Linked DNA regions of Homo sapiens. The protein of the gene in region 4 interacts with the protein of the main gene of each other region in a pairwise test. Each region holds a gene or a part of one and is shown on either strand. Other genes may lie near its edges.

What was found.
Region 1: the proteins of ZNF330 (region 4) and ZNF426 interact in binary tests that used the Homo sapiens proteins (3 or more experiments, as listed by UniProt).
Region 2: the proteins of ZNF330 (region 4) and STX19 interact in binary tests that used the Homo sapiens proteins (3 or more experiments, as listed by UniProt).
Region 3: the proteins of ZNF330 (region 4) and ZNF547 interact in binary tests that used the Homo sapiens proteins (3 or more experiments, as listed by UniProt).

The regions. Positions count from the first base shown.
Region 1 is NC_000019.10:9,528,643-9,535,671, forward strand, and holds part of ZNF426 (zinc finger protein 426), read right to left. Parts: intron 6,638-7,029; coding exon 6,546-6,637; intron 5,325-6,545; coding exon 5,198-5,324; intron 4,284-5,197; coding exon 4,203-4,283; intron 2,426-4,202; coding exon 2,343-2,425; intron 995-2,342; coding exon 1-994. UniProt on the Homo sapiens protein: May be involved in transcriptional regulation.
Region 2 is NC_000003.12:94,018,578-94,025,606, forward strand, and holds part of STX19 (syntaxin-19), read right to left. Parts: intron 1-7,029. UniProt on the Homo sapiens protein: Plays a role in endosomal trafficking of the epidermal growth factor receptor (EGFR).
Region 3 is NC_000019.10:57,359,660-57,366,550, reverse strand, and holds the start of ZNF547 (zinc finger protein 547), read right to left. Parts: upstream 3,001-6,891; 5' UTR 2,848-3,000; intron 1,737-2,847; exon of another isoform or gene 1,718-1,736; coding exon of another isoform or gene 1,295-1,717; exon of another isoform or gene 1,146-1,294; intron 1-1,145. Other genes in the region: TRAPPC2B (trafficking protein particle complex subunit 2B), read right to left, coding at 1,295-1,717. UniProt on the Homo sapiens protein: May be involved in transcriptional regulation.
Region 4 is NC_000004.12:141,223,888-141,230,916, forward strand, and holds part of ZNF330 (zinc finger protein 330), read left to right. Parts: intron 1-599; coding exon 600-619; intron 620-719; coding exon 720-790; intron 791-2,879; coding exon 2,880-2,959; intron 2,960-5,683; coding exon 5,684-5,810; intron 5,811-6,278; coding exon 6,279-6,383; intron 6,384-7,029.

The DNA.
Region 1 (7,029 bases), on a different chromosome or scaffold from region 4:
GCATGTGAATTTTAAGGTGGGTGGAATAGTTAAAAGCCTTCCCACATTCCTTACAGGTGTATGGTTTCTGGGCACTGTGCGTTCGCATGTGATTATTAAGACATGAGGGATACCCAAATACTTTCCCACATATCTTACACTCACAGGCCTTCTCTTCAGTGTGAGTTCTCAAATGTCCACTAAGATTTGAGGAAACTGCAAAGGCTTTCCCACATTCAACACATACAAAAGGCTTCTCTCCAGTGTGAGTTCTTATATGTTGAATAAGGCGTGAGGATGTAAGGAAGGATTTCCCACATTCCTTACATTCATAGGGCTTGTCTCCACTGTGAGATCGTACATGCATACTAAGGCCCGAGTACTGAGTGAAGGCTTTCCCACATTCCTTACATACATAGGGTTTCTCTCCAGTGTGAGTTCTTCCATGTATCTGAAATGAGTTGGAATAATTGAAGGCTTTCCCACATTCCTTACATTCATATGGTTTCTCCCCAGTGTGGGTTCGCATGTGAATACTGAGGTAGGCTGGGTATCTATAGCCTTTTCCACATTCCTTACATTTGTAGGGCTTTTTTGCATTGAGGGTTTCTATAAGCACAGAAAGGCTTGTAGAGTCAATAAAACCTGGCCCATAATTCCTCCATTCGTAGAGTTTTTCTCCATTGTGAGTTCTCATATGTGCCTGAAGGTATGACTCATTAATGAAGGATTTTCCACAGTGACTACATTCAAATGACTTTTCTTGTGTGCTAGTTCTCTGGTATACAATATTTGGTGTCAGGCTGAAGATTTTTTCACTCTGATTAAACTCAGAAAGTTTCTCACCAGTAGAGGTTTTCTCACACAGGGTAAGGAAATCTTTTCCATACTGATTACAGTCATGAGTGTTCCCTGTACTTTGAGTTCTCACGTGCGTCTTAAGGCATGAGTGTTCACTGAAGACTTCTCCACATTGCTCACAGTCACAGAGTTCCCTTCCATTGTGTTTTCCTTCCTGTTGAAGGGATGATGATGATTTAAGGATTTTTCTCAAACATATTAACAGAACATACCCATCTGAAGCTAGAAACATTATAATGGTGATTATAATTGATGCCATTTTTATTACATGCATTCAGGTCCTTCCCTGTAGATTTATTTTAAGTGGTATGACTTAACTCTTATTCTAGAATGTTGTGCCATCTACTTTAATCTTGGCTAGGCATGGTGTCTCATGCCTGTAATCCCAGCACTTTGGGAGTCCGATGGGGGGCAGATCACCTGAGGTCAGGAGTTCAAGACCAGCATGGCCAACATGGTGAAACCCTGTCTCTACTAAAAATACAAAAATTAGCTGGGCTTGGTGGCACATGCCTGTAATCCCAGCTACTTGGGAGGCTGAGACACAAGAATCGCTTGAACCTGGGAGGCGGAGGTTGCAGTGACCCAAGATCACACCACTGCACTCTAGCCTGGGCAACAAAGCGAGACTCCGTCTCAAAATAATAATAATAATAATAATAACAGATTTCTGTAGAATTCAATGTCTAGATGGGTGCAGTAGCTCACATTTGTAATCCCAGCATTTTGGGAGGCAAAGGTGGGTGGATCATTTGAACCCAGGAATTAGAGACCAGCCTGGGCAACATGGCAAAACTCCATCTCTATAAAAAATATCAAAAAATTAGCTGGGCATGGTGGTGTGTTCCTGTAGTCCCAACCACATAGGAGGCTGAGGTGGGAGGATCACTTGAGCCAAGGGGTCAAGGCTTCAGTGAGCCATGTTTGTGCCACTGCAATCCAGCCTGGGTGACACAGCAAGACCTTGTCTCGACCAAAAAAAAAAAATTCATAGTCTAAGCCAGATGTGGTGGCTCATGCCTGTACTCCCAGCACTTTTGTAAACTGAGGCAGAGGATCACTTGAGCACAGGAGTTTGAGACTAGCCTGGGAAACACAGTAAGACCCTGTCTCCACAAAATTTTGAAGAATTAGCTGGGTGTGGTGGTGCATGCCTGTAGTCCCAGCTACCAAGGGAGGCTGAGGTGGGAGGATCGCCTGAGCCCAGGAGGTCAAGACTATACTGAGCCATGATTGCACCACTGCACTCCAGCCTGGGTGACAGAGCAGTATCTCGTTTCAAAAAAACACCAAAACAAAACTCAACGTCTAGTTACACTTGTGGGAATGTGTGAAAGCTCCAAAGAAACAAGTTTCACAATTGGAGCATCCCTAAATTCTTTGCTCCCTCTCATGTGTATGCAACTTCTCTCAAATATCTCTTATTTTTGCTGACTTCCCATAACAGAATTCCTGATTTTCTCTGAGGGTGGAAAATAAAAAATATCCTATGCAAATCTTACCAATTGTATCCCAATGGATGTCTGACCCCTCAAAAAGTCCTGCTGAAGTATAGACCACTGGGTTTCAAGTCGCATTTCCCATCCTGAAATAAAACAGACAAACAAATAAAAGGACTCAAGCTAGGCACAGTGGCTCATGCCTGTAATCCCAGCACTTTGGGAGGCTAAGGCAGGTGGATCACTTGAGGTCAGGAGTTTGAGACCAGCCTGGCCAACATGGCAAAACCCCACCTCTACTAAAAATTCAAAAGCTAGCTGGGTGTGGTGGTGAGCACCTGCAATCCCAGCTACTCACGGGGCTCAGGCTGGAGAATCTCTTGAATCCAGGAGGCAGAGGTTGTAAGGAGCTCAGATCACACCACTGCACTCCAGCCTTGGCAACAAACAGAGTGAACCACAACAAGAACAAATGAAAGGATTTGGAGAAAGAAATGCAAAGAGTTCAAAACAATATGGCTTATTTCTATTTGTTTCAAATTAAACATGGCAAGAAAAAGCAGAAAGACATTTGGGGATTTGGGCTATATCAAAAATTTGGTTTTGATGTAAATGATCCAAAGGGGGAAAAATTGGCCAAGACAAGGACATGGGGTAAAACTTTTCGATCGTTTATTACAAATTGATGCTATGAAAATTAAAACTGATAGTGAATAGAGAGAATCAGGGAATGAAAGTAGGAAATTTCTGAAAAAAGAGCGTATATCTAAACAATTAACTTGGCCGGGCACGGTGGCTCATGCCTTTAATCCCAGCACTTTGGGAGGCCGAGGCAGGCAGATCACGAGGTCAGGATATTGAGATTATCCTGGCTAACACGGTGAAACCCCGTCTCTACTAAAGATATAAAAAAATTAGCCAGGCATGGTGGCAGGCACCTGTAGTCCCAGCTACTTGGGAGGCTGAGGCAGGAGAACGGCATAAACCCGGGAGGTGGAGCTTGCAGTGAGCTGAGATTGCACCATTGCACTCCAGCCTGGGCGACAGAGCAAGACTCCATCTCAAAAAACAAAACAAACAAACAAAAGCCACAATTAACTTAAAGAAATGTTCTAAGACCCCAGGTGGATGCCTGAATCATGGCTAGTTCTGAACCCTGTACATACTATGATTCTTCGATCTGGTAACTGAGATGACCGCTACGTGACTCACAGGTGGTGTACACAGTGTAGATACATTGGACAAAAGGATGATTCACACCCCAGGCAGGATGACATAAGGGTTCATCATACTACTGAGAATGGTGAGAAATTTAAAACTTATGTTTTGTTTATTTCTGGAAATTTTTCTTTTTTTCTTTTTTTTTTTTTTTTTTTTGTGGGGTGGGGGTCAGTGGCCAGGGTCTCACTCTATCACCCAGGCTGGAGTACAGTGGTGCAATCACATCTCACCACAGCCTTGACCTCCTAGTCTCAATCCATCCTCACAGCTCAGTCTCCTGAGTTACTGGGACAGCAGGTGCGTCCCACCACCCTCGGCTAATTTTTGTATTTTTTGTAGAAACAAGGTTCTCGGTATGTTGCCCAGGCTGGTCTTGAACTCCTGGGCTCAATGATTCACCCACCTAGGCCTCCCAATGTGTGGGGATTACAGGTGTGGGCCACCATGCCTGGCCGAGTTTCCCATTTAATATTTTTGGACCATGGTTGAATGCAGATAACTGAAACCGTGAAAAGTGAAATCACAGACAAGGGGGGACTGCTCTGTAAATAAAAGCGTGTGGGAAGTTAAATATTTCCTAACTTTCTCTAAACCTTGGGGTTTAGAGTGCAGGGAGAAAGTACATGTTAAAAAGTTTCCTAATTATGCTTTCAAACATACTGAACTTCTCATCAACCAGAGTTGTTCTTCATGAACACTCACCTTGGAGAACTCCTCCCTGAACTGTCCTTGACTCTTCTTGTTCCAACCAAGAGATTAGACTGGGTTTGATGATCTGACCTCCTGAGCACAGAGAAATACATTAATGGAAGAGGCTCATAAAAAAGATTACAAACCTTTCTGTGATTCAGGAACTACAGATCTAATGAAAGTGGTGAAGCTATTTCAAAAGGGCGAAAAATGCAAATAACAACTCTGACTGTGCCCCAAACAGTCTGGTTACTTCTGTCCCCTAAACCGAAATTCAGGCTTATGTACACATTTAAAAAGCACTGAGACTTTTATTCAAACACAAAATAATGGCCGAGTGTGGTGGCTCATGCCTGTAATCCCAGCACTTTGGGAGGCTGAGGCAGGTGGATCACTTGAGGTCAGGAGTTCGAGACCAGCCTGGCCAACATGGTGAAACCCCATCTCTTCTAAAAATACAAAAAAAAAAAAAAAATAGCTGGGTGTGGTGGCGCATGCCAGTAATCCCAGCTATTCGGGAGGCTGAGGCCCAAGAATCGCTTGAACCCAGGAGGCAGAGATTGCAGTGAGCTGAGATCATGCCAGTGCACTCCAGCCTGCGTGACAGAGTGAAACTGTCTCAAAACAAGAACAACAACAAATAAGGAATAAGGAAGTATAACAGAGATCTTCATTCTTCTGGGGAAACAACTACCCCAGTGTTTTTTAAAACATTATTGTGCATCAGAGTCATCCAGAGAACTTGTTCAAACACAGATTATTGGGCTTCAACTCCAGGTTTCTGGGTGGAGAAGGAAAATGTACATTTCTAACAGGCAGATGGTGTTGCTATTAATCTTGGACCACATTTTCAGAATGGTCACAGTAGATTAAAATCTATTTAGGACAGGGACTATGTCTCTGTTATTTCTCTTTGCATTCAGAGTTGACATTGCCAATGCTGCAAAACAGTAAGTACAAAACATATCAGTTCCATAGAAGGCTGCAAGGGATGAGGCCAGTCTTACCTACTGTGGCCAGGTTCTTGTAGTTCTCCAGCATCACGTCACTGTAGAGGCTTCTCTGAGTTGAGTCCAGTAAAGTCCACTCCTCCTGGGTGAAGTCCACAGCCACATCGTCAAAGGTCACTGAATCCTAAAGCATCACACACATGCTGGTTGGAGCCAAGTAACAAGCCCATCAGCGTTCGCTGGAGGATGAGGAAGGGGGACCCAATGCCTATGCAGGATTCCAAGGGCTGCAGTGACCAGCCCCAGGTTTTAAGGGTCCTAGAAACTCCTCGCACCCTAAACATACTCACTGTCATCTCCTCCACTCATAGTGCATTAATGGCACTTCTTGAATATGAATTTATCTCAGCACAACCAGACTAGGAGATCTCTTTTTTTTTTGAAATGGACTCTTACTCTGTTGCCCAGGCTGGAGTGCACTGGTGCAATCTTGGCTCACTGCAACCTCCACCTCCCAGGTTCAAGCAACTCTCCTGCTTCAGCCTCCTGAGTAGCTGAAATTACAGGCACACGCCACCATGCCCGGCTAATTTTTTGTATTTTTAGTAGAGATAGGGTTTCAGCATACTGGCTAGGTTGGTCTCGAACTCCTGACCTCATGATCCGCCCCCTTCAGCCTCCCAAAGTGCTGGGATTACAGGCATGAGCCACTGTGCCCGCCCAAGATCTCATCTTATTTCCATCTATTTGAGCGCATTGCTCAGCACATTCCAGACATCTGATCAATGCTGATAAACAACTTAAAGGACACTTTTTTTTTTAATTTTTTTGAGACGGAGTCTTGCTGTGTTGCCCAGGCTAGAGTGCAGTGGTGCAATCACAGCTCACTGCAGCCTCAACCTCCAGGGCTGAAGTGATCCTCCCACTTCAGCCTCCAAAGTAGCTGGGAGTCCAGTCATGTACCACTTTGCCCAGCTAATTTTTAAATTTTTTGTAGAGACGGGGTCTCACTATGTTGCTCAGGCTGATCTTGAACTCCTGTACTCAAGCAATCTGCCTGCCTCAGCCTCCTAAAGTGCTGGGATTATGGGTGTAAGCCACCATGCCCGGCCTGGGATGATTTCCAAGTTAGCACCTCCCTATATGGGTGGCCCCAACCCTTGGGGAAATTCAAATGGGGATTCAGTCCTTGAGTGACACTTTATTTGCTTTAAGAAGCCTGGAGACCGGAGCTTGCAGTGAGCCGAGAGCATAGCACTGCACTCCAGCCTGGCAACACAGCGAGACTCCCTCTCAAAAAAAAAAAAAAAAAAAGAAGTCTGGAGACAACTCTGCCTAGAGGGAAATGTGTCTACCTGGTGGATGCAAGTATGTCACTATGTATAAGAATACAGCTGCTTTTTACCTGATAACAATCTGTTAGGCAGTCAGCCACTATTCTTCCTGCTGGTGTCTTTTCTTCATGAAGGCAAACTGGGTCCCCAGAAAGATAATGTCCTGTAAGAAAATGAAGGCAAGAGAACCCCGAGCTGACCATAATCCCCACATCCACCTACCTAGAGGTCATTACCTCCTAGTATGAAATTCCCATATATTCCTGCAAAATCAGGAAAACACACATAAGGCCAGTTGCAGTGGCTCACATCTGTAATCCTAGTGCTCTGGGAGGTTGAGGTGGAAGGATTACTTTAGGCGAGAAGTTTGAGATCAGCCTGGGCAACACGGTGAGACCCCGTCTCTACAAAAAAATTTTAAAATGAGCCTGGTGTGGTAACACACACCTGTAGTCCCATCTCCTTGGGGAAGCTGAGGCAAGAAGATTGCTTAAGCCTAGGAGTTCGAGACTACCCTGGACAACACAGTGAACATAAACTCCCCATCTCTACAAA
Region 2 (7,029 bases), on a different chromosome or scaffold from region 4:
TTGTAAGCTGATGACCCAAATTTGTATCTCCAGTTTAGGTTGCTCTTAAAAAACTGCCTACCTGACAGCTGCATTTGAATGCCTCTATCCAAAATGAGCTCATAATCTTCCTGTGAACCCGTAAACTGCCCCATCTCTCTTCTGGCAACTCTATTTTTCCAGTTGCTCAGACCAGAGACTCAGAAGTCTTTTTTTGTTTGTTTTTTGAGACCGAGTCTCACTCTGTCCCCTAGGCCGGAGTGCAGTGGTGTGGTCTCGGCTCACTGCAACCTCCGCCGTCCGGGTTCAAGCAATTCTCCTGCCTCAGCCTCCCGAGTGGCTGGGACTACAGGCATGTGCCACCACGCCCAGCTAATTTTTGTATTTTTATTAACGACAGGGTTTCACCATGTTGGCCAGGCTGGTCGCAAACTCCTGATCTCAGGCGATCCGCCCTCTTCGGCCTCCCAAAGTGCTGGGATTACAGCTGTGAGCCACCGCGCCTGGCTGGAAGTCATTCTTGACTTTTTTTTTCTACATTTCATATGCAAGCACAGCAAATCTTGTCAACATCTCTTTCAAAATGTATTTGGATCTAGCCACCTCTTACCATCTCCCTGGTTCAAGTCCCTGTTATTTTTGTTAATTTTTTATTTTTGAGACAGAGTCTCCCTCTGTTGCCTAGGCTGGAGTGCAGTGGCACAATCTTGGCTCACTGCACCCTCCATCTCCCAGGTTCAATCGATTCTTCTGCCTCAGCCTCCCGAGTAGCTGGGACTACAGGCACATGCCACCATGCCTGGCTAATTTTTGTATTTTCAGTAGAGATAGGGTTTCACCATATTGGTCAGGTTGGTCTTGAACTCTTGACCTCATGATCCGCCCATCTTGGCTTCCCAAAGTGCTGGGATTACAGGCATGAGCCACCGCAACTGGTCAAGTCCCTGTTATTTTTCATCTTGATTGTTAACGATAGTCTCCTAAGTGTTCTCCTTGTTTCCTTTTTGCACCAACTACCCCCCATCCTGCCCCCACCACAAAACCTCTGGTCTTTTCTTAACACAGAATTCAGAGTTAAAATGTAGGTCAGACCATGTCATTCCTGTGCCTAAAATCCTCCTTTGGCATTATCTCTTAGAGGAAAAACTAGAGCCTACAAAGCTCCACAATGACTTCACCCCTTCTGTTACCCCTCCGACCTCACCTCCTACAACTCTCCCTTTCTCTGCTTCAGTCTCACTGTCCTTGCTGTTCTCACACAAATCTGGCACCATCTGGCTTTAGGGCCTTGGCACTTGCCTTCTCTTCTATTTGAAGTGTTCTTTCCCATGTAGTATGTGACGTTTTTCCCCAACCCAGTCCTTACTGAAATGTCACTCCTGAGTTAGGATGTTCTTTGTCACCCTATTTTGAACTATACCTTCTTTCAACTCTCTGACCCTTCCCAGCTTTATTTTTCTTAGCATTTTTCACTATTTAACATACCATGTATTTTACTTATTTATATTAACTTAATTGTCTACTTTCTCCTCCCAGTATTAACTCCATGAGATCAAGGGTTTTTATTCATTCTGGTACCTCATAGAGTTAATACTTAGAGGAGAAAGTAGAGGGTCTTTATTCTTTCCCAGCACCTTGATGAGTCTTATATTTACTTGAGTTCTTATGTTGAGATCTTGATATCTTAGATTTACTTGAGCTCTTAATATGTGCCAGGCACTAAGTGTGTTTTATGTTCTTATAAGAACAAGTATTGTCATGATCTCTATTCTATAGATAATGAAATTACGATCTCAGCTTTAGTAATTGAACCATGTTGTCAGCTAGTGGTAGAGTTGAGATTCAGATTCTGGCAGTATAGTTTGAAGGACTCAACTCTTTATACGACAGTATAGCATACTAGAGCATAGTAACTTCACTATGACATAGCATAGCTTTACTATGCTATGAAGGTTTTTCAGTGGTGTTAGATCATTTAGGGTGAGTTCTGAAAAGAGGCAATTAGGTCAGTTAAGTGGTTGGGAAAAGAGCCAGATCACAAGGGATAAGACCTTGAAATCTGTTTGTGTCAGGAAAAGGTGTTTTATAGATATTAAAAGTTTATTCGGAAACATTTGCTGTATTACTTTATTGCCACATGACTATATTGCTGAGCATTTTAAGTACCGGTGGGAAACATTTAAGAGCAAGTTTTTGTTGCTGAAATGCACTTAAAGCATTCTACTATTTATTTCACCTATTTTAAATACTTAATTCAAATAGCCGGTAATCTTTTGTTTTTGCCACTGATTTGCTATAGTAAAGGTAAAAAAGTTCAGTCAGTACAATTTATGTAAATAGGGGACTTCTAAGCTGGAAGGAGATTCCATACGCCTCTTCCTCTGCATATTTTTATTGTCTATATTCTACTTTACTGGCAAGGAACAGTTTCTCTACCTTCAGAGTAGAGCTAACCAAAGCTAGTGTTTCTATAAGATCCAAGGAAAAAAATGAGCTATGAATGATACTAAACCTGGAACAATTATGAAAGGAAGATTAGTCAGGAGGAATATTAGACGATACTATAGAAAGAATTGCCAGTTTTAGGTGTTAAAAAGTTGTTTTTGTCTTTCGTGTTTAATATTATTATATATATATATATATAATTTTTTTTTTGAGACAGGGTCTCGCTCTGTTACCCAGGCTGGAGTGCAGTGTCATGATCTCAGCTCACTGCAATCTCCACCTCCTGGGTTCGAAGCGATTCTCCTGCGTCAGCCTCCCGAGTTCCTGAGACTACAGGTGCCCATCACCATGCCCAGATAATTTTTGTATTTCTGGTAGAGACAAGGTTTCACCATGTTGGCCAGGCTCATCTTGAACTCCTGACCTCAAGTGATCTGCCCGCCTCAGCCTCCCAAAGTGCTGGGATTACAGGTACAAACCACCATGCCTGGCCAAATATTGTATAAAATATTTGATGCTTATCCAGGTATAGATACTTAAAGACATGTAAAACTATTGGGAAGTAATGTGGAAACTTTTTACCATGTGGCAACTTTGTGAAAGCAGAATTATCACCCATGTTTTATTATATACATCTGATAAGAACTAGTCTTCTTTTCAGTATAGAGAAAATTTGATGTTAAAGTAGGTTGGCTTAGTAATTTATCTTGTATAGCTTCCTAGTGTTCATTTTGTGGTTTAGTGGTATTTATGACTCCCTAATCTATAAGCTCTTTCTAGTATTACTATATTGATGCTGAAAATAAATTATTCCCCAAAGTGTTGAAGATACCATGTCGCATTTAATATAGCCATAAGCTTTTTAAATAAGCTTTTTAAAAATGTTATTTTTTCCCTCAAATTAATAATGCATGTACACAGGTTAACAAGTCAAGTCATGTCAAGGCTTCTAAAGATATATATCTGACCCTTACCTGCCGTACCACATCCCCTTTCCAATTCTCCATTCCTTAAAGACAGTCATAAAGGCAGTCATTTTCAGCTCCTTAGCTATATGTTGCATCTAAACTCCTGTTTCTAGGTAATTTGCATGTGTAGGTATTTTTGCTTCTTCAGTTTTATTTTATTTTATTTTTTTTGAGACAGAGTTTCGCTGTTGTCACCCAGGCTGGAGTGCAATGGTGTGATCTCAGTTCACTGCAACCTCCTCCTCCCTGGTTCAAGTGATTTCTCCTTGCCTCAGCCTCCTGAGTAGCTGGAATTACAGGCGCCTGCCACCACGCACAGCTAATTTTTGTATTTTTAATAGAGATGGGGTTTTACCATGTTGGCCAGGCTGGTCTTGAACTCCTAACCTCAAGTGATCCACCCGCCTCAGCCTCCCAAAGTGCTGGGATTACAGGTGTGAGCCACCGCACCCGGCTGCTTTTTTGGTTTTAGTTATTTTATTGAATTTCTTCTATGGAAGATGTGGATTTAATCTTCTCTCACACCCCCATTCTTCCCTCACCTTCCCCCTTTTAATACAGTTATATCACAAATTTTGGTTAATCAATATTTTGTGTTTACATTATTGTGACTACCCAAATATTATTTATATGTGAGTCACCTAAGGTACTGTAGCTGTATTTCCTTTCTCAAATAATTTTTTAAATTATTTCTAAGTTTTTTCAATGGATAGAGATAGAAAATGAATATATTTAAGAAAACTTCTTATTGACATATTTATATATACAGAAAGTCCCCCAGAACATAAATGTATATTATGGTGATTTTTCACAAAGTAAATACATCCATGTAACTACCACATAGATCAAGAAACATATAACATTTAATTTTAAGAAAATATTAATTACCAAAGTTTTTCACCTGCTTAATTTTGTACATACATCACTAATTCATTCTAAAACTGAAGTGAATTGAACATATCCTCTTGACATATTTAAATATAGAATATATATATTTTTATTTCATTTTATTCATCTTTTGAGGCTCCTTTCCTGGAAACTCTAATGTAACCTGATTGTGTTAGAATTTTCTTCCTCTTTTATATTCTCTATTTTTGATTTCCAATTCCTCACCTTTCTTGGTTTATCTCCTTGATTTGGGAGTGTACCATAGCTCCTTTTCAAAACATAAATGCAATGATAATTTTCATTACTGAAAATATTTTTATTCTGTCCTATACTTGAATACTATATTTTCTGTGGATATAAGTTTCAGTTGGAAATTATATTCCCTCAAAATTTTGAAAGTTTTGTTACTACATCTTCTAGTTTTGTTACCTCTGAATATTCTGCCCTGTGTTTTCTGATATTTTGTAGATCTGTTTTTATATTTCCTTTCATGAAATTCTTGACCTTTTTTTCATATTCCTGGTGTTCTGAAATTTCACAACAATGTGATCTGGGGTAGGTCTTGATGCATTTATTTGGTAAACATATAGTTGGTCTTTTCAACCTAGAAACTCATGTATTTACGGTCTTGCTTTTTTTTTAAATAATTTCTTTAAGAACTTTATTTTCTCCATTTTCTTTGTATTATTTTCATGGCCTTTCAGACATTAAGAAAATTAAAGAAACAGTCCAGTCCAAGAAAAGCAACGTCCAAATAAGGGGAATTTTAAAGTGACTTGCCTAAGGCCACACAACTAAAAGGTGGCAGATCCTACGTTTAGACATATCTACTTGATTGCAAATCTGTTCTTTTTCCCCTATTGTCTATTGAGTAGAAATTGGTTATCCTAGTGAAATATACACAAATAATGTTTATCTATATCAAATACTGTATTATGTTACTAATATACATACTATATCTATTTAAAAGAAAAAATTTAGCAGGAGATAATATAGCATATAGGATCTAAAATAATGTTGTTGTTTGAAGCTTTATTAGGATCTTTAATATAATCAGACCAAATTGATCACTTTACACTATAAAAGAAGAAAAATAATTTGGATCTCACAGACTGATGTTTACAGAAAGTCTAAGAAATATTGCATTTTATATTTGGTACTATATGGAGATTGATATTCTTATATTTTCTTCTGCTTCAACTCATAGTCATCTAACCAAATTTCTGTTTCCTTCTCTTGTACTAGCTTGTCACTATGAATTGTTTTTTAAAAATTAATTAATTAATCAATTAATAGAGAAAGGATCTCGCTCTTTTGTCCAGGCTGGTCTTGAACTCCTAGCCTCAAGGGATCCTTCCACCTTGACTATGAATTCTTAAAAATACAGCATATATAGCTGAAGTGCTAGTTGCCACATTATTATTTTTTAAACTGGGTTGCACCCGTGTAAATATAGGGAAAAAGAAAGAGTAACAATGTTAGAAGCTCAGAGGCGAGAGAAAGAGAAAGTGGCATCAAACAAAACAGATTTTGATTTTCTATCCATAAAAATTAAGTCCTATATTTATACAATGGTTCAGTAGCTTTTAACAATCTTTAATTTTCACATTCCTCAAGAACTACAACATCTTGAACTTTCTCTTTGGTTGCATGGTTTGGAACAAATCCTGAAACAACTCCCTCTAATGTTTTTATGACTGGAAAGATCTTTGTCCTTTTTTGGGCGTGTTGTTTTGTTTTATTTTTGAGATAGGATCTCACTCTATCACCCAGGCTAGAGTATAGTGGCTCAATTGCGGCTCACTGCAGCCTCTACCTCCCAGGCTCAAGTGATCCTTCTCCCTCAGCCTCCCGAGTAGCTGGGACTACAGTTGCATGCCACTGTGCTTGGCTGATTTTTTAAAATTTTTTGTAAAGATGAGGTCTTGCTGTGTTGCTCAGGCTGATCTCTAACTCCTGGGCTCAAGCAATCTTCCCACCTCCGCCTCCCAAAGTGCTGGGATTATAGGCATGAGCTAGTGCACCCAGCCTCTTTTTTAAAAAAATTAGAAATAAAGTAATCAAAAGCCTTTTTCTAAAGCATCATAGTTTAAAAATTTTTAAGAAATAGACTATTTCAAATTGCTATTGGAGCACAGTGTACACAGGCCTCTGGGAAGGTGAATTTTCCTGTGAAGTGCCTTTGAGAAGGTGCATTTTACTGCCACTGATTTTGGAAAGCAGGATATTTGAGTCTGACCTCTATAAAGGTTGTTTTTTTCCTGGATTTTTATCCATGTAATATCATTCCCTGAACATGCACCACACTTTTATATTTGAATAAAAGGTACTTTAAGGAGCCCTTTAAAATATATTAATATGTCCTTTTTATTAATCTTAATGAATTTACAAGCAAAAAACAAAATATCCTTTTTTTAATATCTGTATACATTATTGATATTAAAGGCAAAACATGGAAATAGAATCAGGTTTCCTTTCAGTGTTATACATCATGGCAATGCGTATTATGTAAACGATGTTTAAAGTGAGCTATAAAGGTTATACTGTGTTTGTCTTGGTTTATGGATCCTATGCCTGTATTTCTTTTGAACATTTAGAGAATATTTATGTGAAAGATCCTTTACATTATTAGGTTATTTCTAGTTTCTTAGGAGTAAATTCCTATGTTTGCTGTGGCCACGGACTGGTGACCACTCTGTTAAATGTGGGCAAGTGTATTTAGTGAAATTCGTCAGTAGCCTAGCTTCAT
Region 3 (6,891 bases), on a different chromosome or scaffold from region 4:
AAACAATTTATCTGAATTGGGCAAGTCGAAAGCTTATTCCCAGCCAGGCGCAGTGGCTCACACCTGTAATCCCAGCACTCCGGGAGGCCGAGGCAGGCAGATAACCTGAGGTCAGGAGTTCAAGACCAGCCTGGCCAAAATGGCGAAACCCTGTCTCTACTAAAAATACAAAAATTAGCCAGGCGTATGCCTGTAATCCCAGCTACTCTGGAGGCGGAAGGAGAACTGCTTGAACCCGGGAGGCAGAGGCTGCAGTGAGCCAAGATCGTGCCACTGCACTCCAGCCTGCATGACAGGAGCAAGACTCCATCTCAAAAACAAAAAAACAAAAACATACACACACACACAAAAAAGCTTATTCCCAATTTTTAAGTAAAAAATATTTCATGGCCAGGCGCAGTGGCTCACACCTGTAATCCCAGCACTTTGGGAGGCCGAGGCGAGCGGATCACGAGGTCAGGAGTTCAAGACCAGCCTGACCAATATGGTGAAATCCCGTCTTTACTAAAAATACAAAAATTAGCCAGGCGTGGTGGTGCATGCCTGTAATCCTAGCTACTTGGGAGGCTGAAGAAGGAGAATTGCTTGAACCCGGGAGGTGGAGGTTGCAGTGAGCCAAGATCGTGCCACTGCACTCCAGCCCCTGCACAACAGGAGCCAGACTCCATCTCAAAAGAAAAAAAAAAAAGAAAGAAAGAAAGAAAAAGAAAGCTTATTCCCAATTTTTAAGTAAAAATATTTCATGGCCGGGAGTGGTGGCTCATGCCTGTAATCCCAGCACTTTGGGAGGCCGAGGCAGGCAGATCACGAGGTCAGGAGTTCAAGACCAGCCTGACCAACATGGCGAAACTCCGTCTCTACTAAAAATACAAAAAAAATTAGGCAGGCATGGTGGTGGGAGCCTGTAATCCCAGCTACTCGGGAGGCTGAGGCAGAATTGCTTGAACCTGGGAGGCGGAGGGTGCAGTGAGACGAGACTGTGCCACTGCACTCCAGCCTGGGCAACAAGAGCAAAACTCCGTCTCAAAAAAAAAAAAAAAAGAAAGAAATTAATTATTATTGATAATGAGTTCTTTATAAATAACATTGTTCACAAGGAAATACTAATTGATCTACTGATATGTGACATGAGACAGAATGTACTATTTTTAAATATAAAAGAAATTTCATTAAGTTTAGATAAGCTGAGAATACACAAAAGATTTCCAGGCTATTTAATCAAGTAATTTACAATGTACACATTCCTGAGTATACACCATTGTGGTGATATAATTTATTTTGGAATTTTCTCCATTCAGCTTAAAAGGTGTTTCTTCCCAAGAAACTGAACTTTTCTGTCAAATGCACTTGATCGAATAGGAGAATTGGGTTCATAAAATGGATTCATTGAAAATTTTATATATAAATCATAAACATCAGTAAAGAAGTTCTTTATTCCATCTTCTTGTCTTATGTCATGAAGCATAATAAACCTCATATGCCCCGCGGTGACAAATGCTGACACAAACCACTCGTTGAACTTGTCCACAGTTTTCAAGTACATGTTGTTCGACAGCCACATGTTCTCATCTACGAGGTCGAGAGCAGCATGAGCTATGAACTGGTTCAGATGACGATGGTCGTCTTTGGATTCTGCCTTCCCAGCTGGCAAAAACTCCATTTCAAAAACTGGATTATCATGGTGACCAACAATTACAAAGTAGAAGCTTCCAGACATGGTCTTCAATATATGGCTCCTGCAGCGGGAGGCCGACAACGGAAACGCAATGTCAGTTTCCGCGGAAGAGACCCGCGCTCCGCACCTTTTTTTGACACGGAATCTCGCTCTGTCGCCCAGGCTGGAGTGCAATGGCGCGATCTTGGCTCACTGCAATCTCCACCTCCTGGGTTCAGGCAATTCTCCTGCCTCAGCCTCCCGAATAGCTGGGATTACAGGCGCGCGTCACCACCCCCGGCTAATTTTTGTATTTTTACTAAAGACGGGGTTTCACCATGTTGGTCAGGCTGGTCTTGAACGCCTGACCTTGTGATCCGCTCGCCTTGGCCTCCCAAAGTGCTGGGATTACCGGCGTGAGCCACCACGCCCGGCCACCCTCTATTCTTTTGAAGAATCTACACCAGTTCTCCTCTGTAGACTCCACACCTTTCTGTCCCCCTACCCATGTGACATTTTCAACTTGAGACGCCTGAGAATCACACTGGCCAAACTCCAACCCATGATCTTCTCCATGAAACCTACTTCTCATGCTGCTGACTTCCCCAACTTCATTCTTTCAGATGTTCGGGCAAAAAAAAAAAAATGACCCTTCACTCCCTATTTTTGCTCACAGACATATCTGATACGGCAGGAAAACCTGTTGGCTCTATCTTCCAGGTCTATCCAGAATCCCATCACATTGTCCCTCTTATACCACGGCTCTGGTGCAGCCTCTGGGATCCACTGCAGTGGCCTCTTCTGGGTCTCTCTGTGTCAATTCCCCATCCTGCTCGTTCTAACTCTGGACCTGCCCCTCCCACTGGTCTTCCCTTGACAACCTTCCATGGTTATACCGGCTGCTCAGGCTGCCATTCCAAGAGAAAATTCACAAAACCCTCTCTTTCCCGCAGAAACAACCCACACTCCGGGCTCCCCGACGCGGCCCACTTGGCAGCACCTCCATGCTCTGAACCTGAGATCCCCGAAGGGAGCTCTGAGGCTGCATCAAACCAGCTGATACGGGGACCCCACACAGGAACGCCCCTCTCTTCGAGACAAGGGGCCTGACCTGCAGGGCCCCTTCTATGGGCTTCAGCACTGGAAGGAGGGGTCGGGCGGAGGTGGGGGGGGGCCTGGGACGGGGCACCCACCTCGGGTTCTTCGGCGGGGACTCCGCAAGTCCAGCCAGGGAAGAGAGGGGCGGGGGCGACAAAGGCAAGACAAGGACACCGCCGTCCCCAGTCCTTGTCAGCTGAGCTTCTGCCACTGTCAGTTGTGCCTGTGTCACTACCGCCTCTGCGTACAAGGAACCAAGCCGCTTCTCGCGCTTTTCCGCTCCGTCACTTCGGTGACGTCATAGAGCGCCAAAGGCCGGAACTAGTGAAAACACCAGAGAAAATCAAATCAACCACGGCAAGAGGACGCCGGAAGTCCCGCCCTCCTACGATGCGCGAGCACGAGGACGGACGCACGCACGCACGCACGCACGCAAAGGTTCCTTCCTGCACATTCATTGGGTCAGTCGCGCTGCCGAGAACCGCAGTGTCTTCTGGGTTATGAAGTTTCGACACCGCTTCTGGACTTGCCTTAGAGCGTTGGTCAGTCCTTATATGGCGGATAGAGGCTCAGTGGCACCGTCAGGGGAGCTGGTAAACAGAGTGCCGGACTCCACGGACAGGACGGGGCTTGGGTTGCTCTTAAAGGCGACATAACCAGATTTTCTTGAAGTAAGGTCTAGGATACTCACAGAAATGTGAGGGACCTATGATATCGGATTGTGAAGCACAGCAAGTTCTCAACGGCTACACCGCCAAAGGGACACACTATACCACAAAGGCACTCTGTCTCTACTCATGCCTCTCAGCCATATGTTGCTTTTCAAATACACATACAGTTAAACTTTGACTTCTATTTATTAAGCTTCAATATGGTTGGTCCAAGAGAACAAAGAAAGACTACATGGCTGGGAATTTGCACAAAAGAAGACAGGAGATACCGACGTAGATTGAAAGGGTGACGCTGTGCCTCTGGATCCAGAAGAAAACATCATTACTGTCTGTAGAGTCAGTGATTGTGTTCCTACCAAGAGTGCAATGCTTTTATTCTAATAATACTTATTACTTCATGTCTGAAATATTTTACATTTATTTTAAAAGTCTCAATCCTGTCTGAAAATGAGAGTGACTGATACATGCCATTTCCTGACAGGACATTTTGTGCCATTCCATAGTTGGAGTATATGTACACAGGGAACGTATTATCCCCAATAAAAACTGTGAACTTTCATGATCTTATCTCCTTCCTGAGAAGTGAGTTATCATTTTACAGGGAGTTGAAATTATCTGTGAAAATACTTGTGAAATGAAAATTACAGAAATCTATTAATAATAACTGTTAGGTTTTGAAGGGAAGGCGAGGGTTAAAGAAAGGCAGAGTTGGCAGCTCTACAGCAATGCAGGTTTTATGTCCAGCACGAGACCTGTGATGGGGAGAACTAGCTTAGTGCCAGAACCCCTCACTGCTTACAGGCTGGGGCAATTATAGGCCTGGATGAGAGGGGTCAGGGGTGGGGGGCAGGGGGCGCGGCGGGAGGGTATGACTTGCTGCCCAGGAGGATGGTGGGTTTTTTTTTGTTTTTGGAGGAGTCTCGCTCTTGTCGCCCAGCCTTGAGTGCAATGGCGTGATCTCGGCCCACTGCAACCTCCGCCTCCCGGAGTTCAAGCGATTCTTGAACTCCGCCTCCCGAGTAGTTGGCTTTACAGGCGCGTGCCACCACGCCCGGCTAATTTTTTTGTATTTTTAGTAGGGACAGGGTTTCACCATGTTGGTCAGGCCAGTCTGGAATTCCTGACCTCAGGTGATCCGCCCGCCTCGGCCTCCCAAATTGCTGGGATTACAGGCGTGAGCCACAGCACCCGGCCAAAGGATGTGCGTAAGATGTTCCTGAGGCAGTTTGGCCTTTTATCCGGCAGGATGTGATAGTGACCTTCCTTGGATCTTTTCCCAGAACGATGTGATAAGAAAGTCAGGCAGTTGGGCAGGATGTTTCTCAAGGCCCTCACTCCGTGGAATGCTTCACTCTGACCAAGGTCTGTGAGATGGCAGGGGGCTTACAGGATGGTGCAGTTTGGACTAACAGTGATTATGTTATTTCAAAACTAGTGGCAGAAATAGTCCTACAGAAATCTCTCTGTGACATGTGAAGGGGGGAAAAAGCAAGGTTACAGTAGAGTTTGAGCAAGAGTCTGAGAAGTCAAAGAATGAAGTTGAGACTGGCTGTGCTGGAACCTGGACACATTATGCTTCTGTCTCCTATATGTATTTCTTATTTCATACTTGAAAACATCGCTTATTAACTGTTTGGAGGGATAGAGATAACAAATGGAAACACTTGTCAAAAAATAAAAATGAAGGCCGGGTGCGGTGGCTCACGCCTGCAATCCCAGCAATTTGGGAGGCCGAGGTGGGCGGATCACGAGGTCAGGAGCTCAAGACCAGCCTGGCCAACATAGTGAAACCCTGTCTCTACTAAAAATACAAAAATTATCTGGGCATGGTGGCGGGTGCCTGTAATCCAAGCTACTTGGGAGGCTGAGGCAGGAGAATCGCTTGAACCCAGGAGGTGGAAGTTGCAGTGAGCAGAGATCGCGCCACTGCACTCCAGCCTGGGTGACAGTGCAAGACTCCGTCTCGAAAAATAAAAATAAAAATGAGTAGGCAATCTGTGTGATGATGTGTATTTACTGCTCTACAAAATGTTCAATGAGCACGTACAAACTGGGTTTCAGGTCAATGGTAGGTATATGGGACACACCGGGAATAGGGCTGCCAGCTGCTGTGTGTATACAGGACTGTTATGTGTTTCCTTAGATTCTGTATTTGTCTTTTTGGTATTCATAAATCACAGGTTCAAGCTAACAGCCAAAGTTGTTAACTTCTCTGTCTGCAAGCCACTTACTCAGAGGTGTGTGAAACTCACATAAAAAAACCCCAGCCAGGCTGGGCGCAGTGACTCACACCTGTAATCCCAGCACCTTGGGAGGCCGAGGCAGACAGATCACCTGAGGTCAGGAGTTCGAGACCAGCCTGGCCAACATGGCGAAACCCCATTTCTGCTAAAAATACAAAAATTAGCTGGGCATGGTGGCGGGTGCCTGTAGTCCCAGCTGCTTGGAAGGCTAAGGTGGGAGAATCGCTTGAACCCGGGAGGTGGAGGTTGCAGTGAGCCGAAATCATGCCACTGTACTCCAGCCTGGGCAACAGAGCAAGACTCCATTTCAAAACAAAACAAAACAACCCTGCCTTTAAAAAAGATACTTATTGTGTGTTATTAGGGAATTGCAAATAAAAGCAACAATGGCATACCACTACACACCTATTTGAATGGCATTTTAAAATCCAAAATACTGAAAATGCCAAATGCTGATTAGGATGAGATGCAAGAGGAATGTTCAATCATTGTTAGTTGGATGCAAAAATGGTACAGCCACAGCCCGTTGCAGTGGCTCACCCCCGTTATCCCAGCACTTTGGGAGGCCGAGGAGGGTGATCACTTGAGGTCAGGAGTTTGAGACCAGCCTGGCCAACATGGTAAAAACCCATGTCTACTAAAATAGGTGGAGGTTGCAGTGAACCAAGATCATACCACTGCACTCCAGCCTGGGTGACAGAGTGGAGACTCTGTCTCAAAAAATATATATAAATAAAATAAATGGTGCAGCCGCTTTGGAAGACAGCTTGGCAGTTTCTTACAAGACTAAACATGCTATATGACAGAGAAAATTGCACTCCTTGGCACATATCCAAATGAGTTGAAAACATCTCCACAGAAAAACTATACAAATATGTAGTAGGTTTATTCATAACTGCCAAAACTTGAAAGCAACCGTCCTTCAATAAGTAAATGGATAAAGAAACTGAGGTGTATTTATAGAATGGAATATCATTCAGCCATAATTTGCACACAAATCTTCAGAGGTTTATTTGTAATAGCCAAAAACTGAAAGTTACCCAAACATCCATAACAATTAAGTTGACAAAGAAGAAAAATTGTGGTATACAATGAAATACTGAAATACTACGCAGCAATACAAATGAGCAAACAATTGATTCATGCAACAAGATAATGGATTAACCTTAAAATAGTTATGTTTACTGAAAAAGCCAGAGCCCCACCCCCTAAAAAGTACACACCA
Region 4 (7,029 bases):
GTAAAGACATGGAGAAGAGAGAATATAAGACATATTTGGAGAATGGCTGACCATTAGTGACTTGAGTCTAAAAAGAATAGGCCAAGAAGGTTTGGAAAGTGATTAGGGGCCAGATTGTGGAGAGCTTTTAAAACCATGTTTAGGAATCTGGATTTTCTGTGAACTTTATTATTTTGTATTCTCTTTGGAACGGTGCCTTAGATAAATGCATTATTTTAAGGGTCACCCACTTCATTTGGAATAATATGTGCTTAACGTTTCATAAGGCTTAGAATGTACTTAACTATCAAAAGGATAGTTCTTGTGTTCATTCTGTGGTATTTTATTCCTTACAAACAATTGAAAAAGAAACTACCAATGTATTTAGCCTCCTTTGTGATAATGCCACTTCTTCAGGGAATCATATACCCGGAGTATCACTCTCGCATACCTTTGTTATTTTAAGCATGGGTAGGTGCTTGTATACATGGGTGGAGTTGGGGCTTTGGTGTAGTGTCACTTAAATTTTAACCTGAAAAGCAGGTTATTCTTTGTAATACAAGTAAATTTGCAGTTTTCAGTCAGCAGAAAAATTAATGTGATATTTTTATATGTTACAGGAATGTGACAAGTGTCAGAGGTAAATTTTATTTCTTTTTCTATCTACCTTTAATAAAATTGTCCCTCTGACTTTTTATCTGACATTGACCATAATTTAAAATTTTATTTTACATGACAAGGCGGCAGAAGAATAGAGCATTTTGCTACTTTTGTAATTCTGTACAGAAGTTACCAATTTGTGCACAGTGTGGTAAGTTTGTAATAATTAAGGACATATGCTTTTTATCAACTGGTAGTTCAACAATTTGAACTTGGGTGGGTTTGTTGCTATTGGTTACAGTGCTTACAATTGTTGATAATATTATGCCTTACCATTAACAAAATAACAAAACATGTTATTTTGCCTACCAAAAAACTATCAAGCCTTGGTTTTGTCTCTTTGATGTAATGCTGGAAAATAATTAAGGTACAATTTAGATACAGGTTACCAATAAGTGTTTTTAAACAGTGAAAGATCAGATTTCAGACATAACATTTGGTGATCCTGAACTTTTAGTTATACTACCTTAGTCTTGTCAGTATCTGTTTGTTTACTTATCTACATTTTGATTCCTGCTGATATTACCTGCAGTGTGTTAGACCATTGGGAATAATTTTATTCCACATTTACCTGGTACTTATTTTGTGATCAGTAGTTTTTGTGTTTGATGCTTACCATATGATTCATGAGTTTCCTCACATGTATTCCCAGGTGATTTAAATAGAGTTCTTAAGTCATGTGCCCGGTTCTTAAGTATAGGTGGAGACTTGTACCCCAAAATGATTATACAAAATAAAACTAAATGTTAGCAAGATGGGTGTTTCCCAAATAGTCTTCCACAGACTTCCTGAAATATTAATGGATATTTCTTGAAAAATATATATCGATATACATTTGAGAAATACTGCATGCATCCTCCTTTCATTCTCATCTGGGAGATTTCTATTATATATTTATATGTTAGAAGTTCTGAAGACTTGCAACAAAGAAACCCAATTAACTTTATTACTCTAGATTTACATCCCCCCCCAACTTTTGATGAACAAGTATTGCTTTTATTTATGAGATAATAATAATAATTTCAGGTAGAACAATTTGGGGTATGCTCATTTAAGTGTGTTTATATGTAATAATATTCCAGAAAGTTAGTAGTGTTTAGGGCTATATCCCTGAATATTTCTAATGTAGTTCTAGCTTTCAAAGAAGATCTTTTCAATTCCACAATTAATGAAAAAGAGAAAACTGGCCTATATGGAACACTCATATGGTAGTTTTCATAGCCTTGTTTTGCAAAAAGTAATGAATGTAGAGTGAGGAAACAGAGTTTGTGGAAGATTAATAGGTAAGTTCTTGCTAGGACTTACCCCTATTTTCAGTGTCTCTGGGCTTAAATTTTGTAGTGTTGTTAGATGGATACATTTCTCATTTACTGATTCTTAGTGTTGGACATGGAACAGTTGGGTAGCTGCTGCCTCTCATTTCCAGTTTCTCTTCCCATTTCCTACTAACTTTGTTCCTTAGGAAATCAAGATAACGGAAAATTGTTTCTTTTGTGTTCCATTTTGTGGAGTCTCAGATGGATGATTAATGTCATCATTAACTCTCACATAATATCTGATAAGCAAATTTCCTGATAGTGTTTTGAGTTGGTAATTTAATTTGCTTCTAGATCAGAGGTTTAGTGGCTGTGTGGTGATTTGTAGCTGTATCACCGTATTGTTTATTGTGCTTATTTGGGCACTATTTCAAAATTTTGTTGGGAAAATGTTTAACTGGGGGCTTCGTTGTAAATTTTTATGTTTGGATAAAATTACATTAACTCGATAAGTTACATAATCATTATTTGGTTTGGTTTGAGGTATTATTCTGTGGAAAGAAATAACTTCAAACCACAGTTTTTATTGTGAATTATAAAATGTAAAATTTGTTATAAAAAGCATTCCTTTAAAAATTGTTTTGAATAATCTGAAGATTGATAAGTTTTTAAACTGTTAAAATGATCATTAGATTACAAAGCATAACCTGCAATTTCTGATTTAGTACAAATTAGCATATATATTGTATAGTTCATTTTACAGATTTATTAGTAAATGTATAATCTGAAAAGTCTGATTCGAGTAATGAAGTCTCAGTTATATCCATTTTCTCTTTCTAGTTATGTAAGCAGTAAATACTGATTCAATTTCATTAGTTTTTAAATTATTTCCTCAGGAACTTGGGCTGGATAAAAGGAGGAATTCGTGAGTACTGGTATGTATTCCTTTGCAAGACTAACAGTGCAAATGTTTTTCTTCATTAGGGAAAACAAAGTGCATGATGAAGTCTTCAGACTGTGTCATAAAGCATGCTGGTGTATACAGTACTGGCCTTGCAATGGTGGTAAGCTTCTTATTATCTCTTAGACTAGTACGTTTTCAAGGATAAGAAAATGTCATTCTGATCAGTGGTTATTTTTTTCTAAATATCATTGCTTTGTCCCTTGTTTCAATCAATCTGTAGTTATCTGGATTATGAGTGGCATGCTTTTTGTATGATTTTCCCTTAGTACCCACTTGTTTCTAGCTGCTTCTTTCTTTCTTATTAGGGAACATACAAGGCATGGAAACTTTTCATGCTGATCTAAACAGAATTTCATTTCTCAGTGGTACCTTTTTTTTTTTAAATTTTATTATTATTATTATACTTTAAGTTTTAGGGTACATGTGCACAACATGCAGGTTTGTTACATATGTATACATGTGCCATGTTGGTGTGGTGCACCCATTAACTCGTCATTTAGCATTAGGTATATCTCCTAATGCTATCCCTCCCCCATCCCCCCACCCCACAACAGTCCCCGGTTTGTGGTGTGTGATGTTCCCCTTCCTGTGTCCATGTGTTCTCATTGTTCAGTTCCCACCTATGAGTGAGAACATGCGGTGTTTGGTTTTTTGTCCTTGCGATAGTTTGCTAAGAATGATGGATTCCAGCTTCATCCGTGTCTCTACAAAGGACATGAACTCATCATTTTTTATGGCTGTATAGTATTCCATGGTGTATATGTGCCACATTTTCTTAATCCAGTCTATCATTGTTGGACATTTGGGTTGGTTCCAAGTCTTTGCTATTGTGAATAGTGCCACAATAAACATACGTGTGCATTTGTCTTTATAGCAGCATGATTTATAATCCTTTGGGTATATACTCAGTGGTACCTTTCTAATATCTCTTAACCAGACTTCACAAAACAGTATTTAGTGTACCGAAAGCCCTGCTTAACCAACGTTTAAGCCTTTGGTTAAATAAGCAACTTAGTTCCAAACGAACCTAGGATAATAGTGTTCTTTAAAACTTTACATTTCAAAAAAGTGTATATATTTAACATACCTCTTCATTACATATAGGATTTTTTAAAGTAAATTCAGCTTTTTGAATAATAAAACCAACTGGATTATGTGATGTATTTTGCTCTTTTTCCTGAAACATGTTTTCCTTCTAAATATGAGTTAACCAGTTTTACTGTATTGCAGTATGATTTTATGTTCAAATAAAATTTTGTTCAAATTTTAATCTATGAGGAAAATGATACTATATTTATGTCAAATGGAATATTTTATTTATGGTAAATTTCCAAGAACATGTAAACTTCTATTATGAGGGAGACCTATGATATATTTCATATGTGCATATATTATAGAAGCAAGGAGCGAGAATTATCATCTTGTGAATTGCTCTTTATTTTAAGTATAGGATTGTCAAGTTATCTTTATTCAAAAACACTTTCAGTCTTCCTTGGTAGCTTAAGTTCAGCCAAATTCATTTTTTAAAATCACTGTTTTTTGAATGTGAATAATTTCTTCTTACATAAAGAAAACATTTAAGTAGAGTCATATATCTTTAGTTGTAAATTCTAGAAAAGTGATTTTCTGGATATCTTCTATTTGCCTCCCCAGATTCCCCCTGAGAATAGCAGGAGAATAAGATCTGGGTGTTTATTCCTTCATCTCACTCCGTACCAGGTTATCCTGGTTTGGTTTTATCCTTTCTCTAAGGACCACAGTTCTCCCTATATGGCCAGGTAGTCCTCTCCTGTTTGTCCTAAGAACTTCCCTGTCCTCTGCAAATTATCTCTTTAAAACTCTTCTAGATTACCTAGTTTGAGAGTACCATCTCTTTTTTGCAAGAACCCTGGCTGATCCAAGAGATATAGTTGATGATTTGCTAGCTATACTGATAACCCATTTTTGCAAGTCAAAAAACATTCTTCCTATTTGTTGTTTACTACATTTGTTTCAGAGCCTTGAATAATAGAATACTGAATTGAGATTCTGAAATCCTGGCTTTAAATCTCACCTCACCTGTAATCCAACTCGGGACTTGGATTTAGTCTTGGGCCCCATGCTTTTCCTTTATAAAGGAAAGATTGTCTGATCCTACTCTCTTAAGATTCTTTCTAGCTTTTAATATTTGGTAGGTGTCAATGTTTTATTGAAACATATTGTTATTGTCTTTTCTTGATATAGAATTGGAGAATCTTACCCTGTATTTTAGTTCCATATATTTTACTTCAAATTTTTTCCACAAAGAAATGTAATTATTATTAAAACATAAGTTGTCATAAGAGAAAAAAAGAAGCTGGCAGAAGTTTCGTATTTCTCAGTAATTCTAGAAAAGCTATGCAAATATATAGATAAGAAGGTATTTTAAAAATCAGAAATGGTAGTATTTAAAAATTCAGTGTAGTTACAGGAATTATTATAGACAAGAAAGCTTAAGCTGTTGGTTCCTTCAAACTTTATTTGAATTAAATTCATTTTGAGGAAAATACTTCCATCTCTTTGGCTTAATTAAATAATATTAGGATAAGTGTACAGTTTACCTTTTTTTCTTTTGATATGTAACTGAGTTTTGTATATTGTGGATAGCTGTTAAGAAGTTGTTTTTCAGAGAACCCTTTTTATTTTTGGCTTAGAGTGAGTAGTAAAATGTTTAAATGAAGCGGCCTACTATCATTGAGGGTTGATAAATTGCTAAATGTATACAGTTTTGATGGTTGCCGTGGTTAAAGAATGGTTGCAGGTGGTCAGGTGATAATGATTATGTATTCTTGTTCCTTGGTTACAGGGTGCAATATGTGACTTCTGTGAAGCTTGGGTTTGCCATGGTAGGAAATGTCTCAGTACACATGCTTGTGCCTGCCCTCTTACCGATGCTGAGTGTGTTGAATGTGAACGAGGCGTGTGGGACCATGGTGAGTCATTAGACACAAGTAATGAGCTTTGTTATAGGTGAATGTTGACTTTGAAACATTTTGAATGCTGTTTTTGAGATTTTTTTCAGGATACTGTCAATCCTAACTACTGGTACTGTTTTGATTATCAGTGTAGTTAGAGAAGGGATCTATACTGTCTGTTATTGTCAATGCTAGTATTGTTTACCCAAACATGGAGGGAAGTTGTGGTGGAGCAGGTAGTCTCTTTGAGCATTGTGAGTGTTATATGGGTAGCTAGTGGAGAGTAAGAGCCCCCTTTTCTCAGTTTCAGTTCAGTTTCAAGGACTTCAACAGTTTTCATTTTAGCTTTTATCAGAATAAAAATGGCTGAACAATTTTGGTGTATCTCCAAAGTAACTTACCATCTCTTCTAAGCAGTATTATAGATATGAGTTTTTTTAAATTAAAGTTTATCTTAATTACATTTGTGTTTTTTTAATCCAATAGGAGGCAGAATATTCAGTTGTTCTTTTTGCCATAACTTTCTCTGTGAAGATGATCAATTTGAGCATCAAGCCAGCTGCCAGGTTTTAGAGGCAGAAACATTTAAATGTAAGTTTTTAAGTATTAGATGTTCTTTATACCCAAGATTCTGAATAGTATAATTATTAATCTTAATGAAAAAGGAATCAAGTTTTTTTATACTGCTTCTCATGAACTGTAATTTAACTCAGTCTTTATTTTCTGTTTCTAGAAAACAGAACAGTCAGAATATAGTTGTAAATTTTTCAGCAGGGATGCCAGTGGCATATTGGTTGGGCCAGTTTTTCATTTTGTAGGCTTGATTTGATCAGGCATTGCAGGACTTACACCTTTCGTGGTTCAGAGTACCACATGTCATTTTTACCTTCAAATTATTATAAAAAACCAAACCTCACCCTTCCTTCCCATTTCCAAATGCCCTCCCGTAAGAGATACCACCCTGTTTGTTTCTGCTAGTTGGTTCTAGTGATTCTTAGACAGGACTGTATATCAAAAATACCTGTGGAGGTTTTAAAAATAATGTAGATGTCCAGGCCTCATCCCTGGAGATTCTATCTTTTAAGTCCGTGGTGGGTGCCAGGCACCTGTATTTAACCTATACACAAAATTCTCACGTATTTTCCAGTTGAGAGCCAGCATTGCTGACTGGGTAATAGTATCATCTTTACACATAGTTTTTTTCTTGGAAGGTTCATTGAAATGAGACACCATATAA